2 linked regions of the Homo sapiens genome follow. The protein of the gene in region 1 purifies or fractionates together with the protein of each later gene. This does not show direct contact. Each region holds a gene or a part of one and is shown in the gene's direction. Other genes may lie near its edges.

What was found. Proteins that work in one complex are often made in the same cells at the same time.
Region 2: the proteins of SLC25A23 (region 1) and DDI2 purify together in Homo sapiens (affinity purification with mass spectrometry; one large-scale study listed by BioGRID and IntAct). This does not show direct contact.

Annotation. Positions count from the first base shown.
Region 1 is NC_000019.10:6,439,436-6,442,817, reverse strand, and holds the end of SLC25A23 (mitochondrial adenyl nucleotide antiporter SLC25A23), read left to right. Parts: intron 1-658; coding exon 659-843; 3' UTR 844-2,754; downstream 2,755-3,382. UniProt on the Homo sapiens protein: Electroneutral antiporter that mediates the transport of adenine nucleotides through the inner mitochondrial membrane. Originally identified as an ATP-magnesium/inorganic phosphate antiporter, it also acts as a broad specificity adenyl nucleotide antiporter.
Region 2 is NC_000001.11:15,662,375-15,666,027, forward strand, and holds part of DDI2 (protein DDI1 homolog 2), read left to right. Parts: 3' UTR 1-3,653. UniProt on the Homo sapiens protein: Aspartic protease that mediates the cleavage of NFE2L1/NRF1 at 'Leu-104', thereby promoting release of NFE2L1/NRF1 from the endoplasmic reticulum membrane.

The DNA of each region.
Region 1 (3,382 bases):
GCACTTTGGGAGGCCGAGGCGGATGGATCACCTGAGGTTGGGAGTTGGAGACCAGCCTGACCAACATGGAGAAACCCCGTCTCTACTATAAATACAAAAAAATTAGCCGGGCAAGGTGGCGCATGCCTGTAATCCCGGCTACTTGGCAGGCTGAGGCAGGAGAATTGCTTGAACCCGGGAGGCGGAGGTTGCAGTGAGCCGAGATTGCACCATTGCACTCCAGCCTGGGCAACAAGAGCGAAACTCCGTCTAAAAAACAAAAAGTGGGTGGAGGGCAGGGAGGAGCCTGACTTAGACTGGAGCACCAAGGAGGAGTCCCCTGGGGAGCTGGCTCTGGGATAGGGGTTGGGAATATGAGTAGGAGTCAGCTGGGAAAGGAGGGAGGGAACCTGGCTCCAGGAGGAGGACATTTCTGTCCTTTCTCACCTTGCACACCCATACCTGCTCCATTTCTAATTGTCCCCAAACTTGGGGCGAAAAGGTGAGCAGCCAGTTCCAAGGTCAATACAAGTCTCGACTCTGAGTGGTAGGTCCCACTGTTAGTCTAACCTCCTTCCCTCCTGCTGCAATGACACCACCTGGCCCAACCCTGGGGGTAGGAGGGGGAAGTGAAAGGGGAACGTTGGCCTTACCTGGTGCCCCCCCCGCCCCCTCCCAGCCTCCATCGAGGGTGGCCCCCAGCTGTCCATGCTGGGTCTGCTACGTCACATCCTGTCCCAGGAGGGCATGCGGGGCCTCTACCGGGGGATCGCCCCCAACTTCATGAAGGTTATTCCAGCTGTGAGCATCTCCTATGTGGTCTACGAGAACATGAAGCAGGCCTTGGGGGTCACGTCCAGGTGAGGGACCCGGAGCCCGTCCCCCCAATCCCTCACCCCCCACACCTCAGCCACTGGAGACTGATGATCCAACCACAGGATCCCTACTCTTTGGCCACGAGATCCCAGTACCCAGATCCTGGATCCTAGACTCCTATGCCCCAACCATTGGGTCATGGGATCCCAGCATCCAGATCCTGGATCCTAGACTCCTATGCCCCAACCACTGGGTCATGCGATCCCCACCCTTCAGCCACTAGATCCCAGATCCCCCTGTAACCATAACTGTGGATCCCTTACTTCAGCAACTCAAGTCTGCTACCCTAACCACAAGATTCAAGATTATCCACACCCCAGCCCTTAATCCCCATCCCCCAAATCACTGGATCCTGCAGCCCCACATCCTAAGGTGGATCCCACGCTTCCCTGTGCCCCCTACTGGATCCTGGACCTCTACGTCTTAACCACTGGATCCCACACAAATCAGTGAATGGATCCCAACACCCCAACCACAGGAGCACGGATTCCCTGTACCTCAACACCCAGACCCTGCCTCCCTCAGGCACCAGATCCAGTGTCCTAGTGAAACGCTGGATCCTAGATCCCCAACCCCAGATCCCCATGCCTCGAGCCCTGGATCTCCAAGCTCAGCTGCTGGATTCTGGATGTCAACAAACCTCACCACTGGATCCTGACAACCACAATGCCTGGATCCTGGGGCCCCCATCACTGGATCCCAGATCCCCTCACTCCACCCACTGGATTCCTGCATTGGTTTTTGGTTTTTTGTTTTTTTTTAACCTCGACACTGGGTCTCAGATCCTTCTGCTGACTGCCAGATCCCTGCATTTCAAGCACTACGCCTTCCACCCCCAGGCACTGGATCCCAGATTCCCAAGCCTTCACCCACCAGATTCTGGCTCCTAAAACAAGTGCGGGGGCCCCAGTGGCACAGCAAGTGGATCCTGGCAACTGCAGCTGCTGGATTCCAGATTCTGGGTCCCCAATCCCTCTGCCCAGTCCCTCAATGTTGAAACCTCATCTCTTGAAGGCAGATCCTGATATTCCAAGGCACTGAATCCCAAGCCCTGAATCCCCGGTTTCTGATCTGAATCTTCCAGGCGCCGGGTCCCAAATGTTCAGGCCCCAAGTCTAGATCCTGGCAGCCCAGTCACAGAGTATCCCACACACACTGGTGCCCAGAGCCGGCTTCTCATGACATGAAATTGCATGGTCGAGGGAGTCTGTGGGGAAGGAAGCCCAGGTCCTGGCTGCAACCTGCACGGATGCTGGATTCCCCCTCACCCCACCTCTGCATGGCCACCCCCTCCCAGCCCTGTGGGGAAACTGTTCCCTGGAACCACTCCACTCCCTGCATCCCCACACTTCACAGCATCTTCCATCCCCCTCCCACCTTCTAGGCGAATAGTCCCCAGAGCTGTGTTCCTCCAAGGGGTCCGAGGAATCACTCACTCCTGGAGGCTGGCAAGGAGACAGTCTGAGGCCAGGGACACATGAAGGGATGTCCCCACCCCAGCACTATCAGGGCCTCCCCAGGCTTCCAGAGTTGAAAGCCAGGAGAAAATCGGCAAAGACCACCCTTCCCTAAACCCAAGCACCCAATGATGCAAAAAACAAAAACAAAAAAAAACCACCAAATCCCCAAATTCATTCCAGATCTATTTTTCTACCAGAGAGAGGAGCAAAGTCCTCCTCCCCTGCGCCCTTACATTCTGCACTTCATAGTTGGATTCTGAGCTTAGGATCATCTGGAGACCCCATGGAGGGACTTGGAAAGGGGAACTGGGATTTGGGGAGGGGCTGGAGGACTTCCGCACGCTTCCACCTCCTTCGACCTCCACTGCGCCCCACCTCCCTGCCTGTGTGTGTTATTTCAAAGGAAAAGAACAAAAGGAATAAATTTTCTAAGCTCTTTTATTGTGGTTTTTACTGAAAAGGGGGTGGGTGGCTATGGGACCACCTTAGTCTACCCCTAGGGAAGGGACAAGGGGCTGCTTCCCAACACCCACAGTTCCAAGAGCCAGGAAATGATTCCCTCTTTGAGCCTCAGTTTACACATCTATAAAATGGGAGCAGGGGAGGGAGTCCCTGTTTATAACCCCTTCTAAATTTTCTGGGCTTTATTATTTTTATTTATTTATTTATTTTTGAGATGGAGTCTCACTCTGTTGCCCAGGCTGGAGGGCAGTGGCACGGTCTCAGCTCACTGCAACCTCTGCCTCCCGGGTTCAAGCGATTCTCCTACCTCAGCCTCCTGAGTAGCTGGGATTACAGGCACCCACCACCACGCCCGGCTAATTTTTTGTATTTTTAGGAGAGACAGGGTTTTACCATGTTGGCCAGGCTGGTCTCGAACTCCTGACCTCAAGTGATCCACCTGCCTCAGCCTCCCAAAATGCTGGGATTACAGGCGTGAGCCACCACGCCCGGCCTCTGTATTTTTTTTCAAATTACAAATTTCAATTTTTTTTCAAATTATCCTTTTCCTAGGGCTGCCAGACCAAATTATCACAAACAGAATGGCTTAAAACAATTTGTGTGTC
Region 2 (3,653 bases), on another chromosome or scaffold:
TGTGCATCACAGGCTGCTGCATGGATTGCCATGAATCCTTATTACATTGGATGGGATATTGTGGGGGAGTTACAATGCAAGTGAAACGTGGTGCTACCCAGATTCTTAAAAGAACAGAACAACCATAATTCCATTTGCAGATGTCAAGAACTGTGAGGGAAAAATAATGGCCTAAACACTGGAATTTGCTAGAGTTTGGGTTTGCTAGCATCTCACTGATAACACCTCAACCCTTAATGACTAATGGTGGAATTAAGTTCAGGAATGGATTCATTGCCAGCAGCTTATTTCCTTTCTAGACTCTTCTGCCAGGAAGTTCTTCAAACGCTCAGTGTGAGCTGTGATCTGAGTGAAATACTAAGTGTGATAACCTTGTCACTGGTTAATCTTGGTGCTTGGAACGGTCAGTCTATTTGGAGAGTGTCCTTTGTGGCAGTGGAAATAGTAATTACAGTTTCTGACTTAAGTGGCCTTGGTAGAGTTTTCCATCCTTTTCTTTCCTCAGGAGTTTCTTTTTTAAGCAAAATTCATCTTATTTGTGTTTACCATGTCAAGTTAGAGTGGGGCATAATATATAGATGTATTTATTGTGGCCTTTTTTTATATAAGGACTAGCCCTTGGAAATCATTGTCCTGTGGGCCCCACTGTGCAATAATCCTACTGGATAGGTTTTAGATAATTCTTTCCTGGCAAACTGCTCTTTTGGGTACCTAGCAGGAATCTGAAGTCTTGGTTTTATTGAAAAGAATTTTGAGATTCATAATTTCTGATTCTAGATTATAGTTTGTAACATGTTTGAAACAGAAGCTTCGAAAGAGTGATTTCTCAACTTAGTGTTAAATGATTTTGTCTGAAGTCTGACTCTTTGTAAGCTTGTTTGTTTCATCAAATTTTAAGTCATTGAGCACAATCAAAATGGAGGCTCATATCTCAGGAGTTTTTGAAATTTTAATTTAGGGGCACTTAGAGACATTTTTTTCTACCCCATCCAACTTCTTTCTTTCCTTTTGCTATGATGTTTGTATGTATGTTATAAGACTTTAGTGATGGGATGGCGTGTCACGTAGATTCATCATGATCCTTTATGTAGTTAGGAAATGGTTGACAGAAGGAATTGTAGTTTACTGCTTTTCAGAGGGCGTGAAGAACAACAGGTCAGCCAGGTTGTCTTTAAGATGTTCTTTTAGACAGCTGCACATTGTAGACCCTTTCACCTGCCCTACACCAAAGATGTACGATGCACTAGGAAACTGCTCATAGGATTTCTGTCAGCTGACTTAAAGCTGTGATTGTAATTAAATAGTTGGTGCTATGATTGATGCAAAATCTAGTAGCAATGCAATGGGACCCTGTATTTGCTTTATGGGTGGTGGTTTGGGAATGTATTCTAAGCTTATAAATCTTTGGAACCACGGGGTGGGAAGGGTGGGGGAACTTACTGATGACAATAGACTCCCTCCTAAAGGGCCTTCCATGTAAGCAGAACGAACCTTGGCACACAATTCAGTGTGGATATTTGGGAAACAGTTCCAAGTGGAATATATAATATCAGTCGGGAAAAGATTTCATTAGGATAGCTTTTTGTGTATGTATATGTATATTTATTTTTAGGAATAGATCTATAGTTGTACATGAATTCCTGTTAGGAATACTCTGAATGAGCTTAACCCACTTGCCAAATATCCTTGTCCCTTCCATCATTTTATTTTTGAGATGGGGTCTTGCAGTGTTGCCCAGGCTGGACTCAAACTCTGGGGCTTAATCATCCTTCTGAGTAGCTGGGACTACATAAAGGCCAAAGTATAATTGCTTTTGATTTTTAAAATCTTCTTGCCCATCATTTTTATAAAAATAAAGCTGTTTGTCCAACACGGTGAAACCTCATCTCTACTAAAAATACAAAAAATTAGCTGGGCATGGTGGCACACGCCTGTAATCCCAGCTACTTGGGAGACTGAGGCAGGAGAATTGCTTGAACCTGGGAGATGGGGGTTGCAGTGAGCCTAGATCACGCCACTGCACTCCAGTGTGGGCGGCAGAGTGAGACTCTGTCTCACCCAAAAAAAAAAAAAAAAAGCTATTGACACTGTTAATATTTTGGATGACTTAAATTTAGCAGCTCTAGAATGCAAAGGGTATATTAAGGAGCATTACAATAGTGAACCTTCATCGTCAGCTTTTATTCAATTAAGAGCTCCAGAAATGCAGAAATTATGGGTTAACTTCTAAGAATACCATCAAATCCCTGTGAATTCTGGTTGCCAACAGTAATAACCAGTAATGGGCACCTTTACCGGACAGCTCCTTTACCATAACCAGTAGTGGGCAGTTCTGCGGTCAGCACTTAACTACAAGGGCGGTCTCTGTTTCTTCACCAGAGAGAGAAGATTTTCCTGTGTAATTTGTGCCATTTCCCTGAAGTTGGTTCTTGAGCGGAAAGATGTGCTTGGTAACCAGACAGCAGCTTTACATAGGTTATAGATTTTGCTCATTGATGCTGTTAAGAATTATTTCCACTCATACCTGTTCAGGGCTCCAGACAGCCAATAGCCTTCATCCCACAGTTTGGGCTTCAGCTATTAACACATAAAGATAACCAGTTGCAGCTAGGCTCGGTGGCTCACACCTGTAATCCCAGCACTTTGGGAGGCCAAGGCGGGTGGATCACCTGAGGGCAGGAGTTTGAGACAGGCCTGGCCAACATGGTGAAACTCCATCTCTACTAAAAATACAAAAATTAGCCGGGTGTGGTGGCCCATGCCTGTAATTCCAGCTACTCGGGAGGCTGAGGCAGGAGAATCACTTAAACCTGGGAGGCGGAGGTTGTGGTGAGCAGAGATCACGCCATTGCACTCCAGCCTGGGCAACAAGAGCAAAACTCTGTCTCAAAAAAAAAAAAAAAAAAGGTAACCAGTTGCTTGGCAAAGGAAGCTGGAGAGATGGCGAGTGCATGTGTTAAAACTCTTCTGCCTTGCAGCCCACATCTTCTAGAGCTCCCTGTCTTCATATGTACTAAAGGGAGACACAACCCTATGTGTTTTTTCCCAAAGCATGTCTCTAGCAAGAGGGTACATAGAAATGGAACATGAGGCTTTTTGTCACTGATTTTATGATAACCAGTTAATGTGGAATCTGCTGGTTGTCTTACTACAGCTTTCTATCTCCGGTGAAAGCCATAAAAATTTAGGTTAACTTTTAAGCTCATGTCTATATATATGTGTGTAAGCTAGCATATACATATGGTGATTGACAAGTATAGTTAATTTTATATGGATTTAAAAGCAAGCAATTTTTATATCTACAGACGTACTCTTCACTTATGGTGGCTTTTATCCCGCCACATATATAAATATATATATATATAGCAAACAGCCTTGCAAATCATCGGCCAGAAAAGCTGCAGGGCGTTGCAATGGCCTTTTCCTACCTGTTTGCCACCTGTGGTGAGGGTGAGCAGGATGATTGAACTGCTGCATATTTCAAACCTGTTATCACTGGCAGTGTGTCCCAAGAGAAGCTGACCAGATTATGCATTCTACTGTTCTCTAGCACAAGTACTCACCAAAAAGCCAAATTTCCCCTTTGGAGTTGGTGACTTAGTGTAGTCTGTGGCTGACCTAGAAAGACACAGAGTTATCAAGAGTTTCCCTTC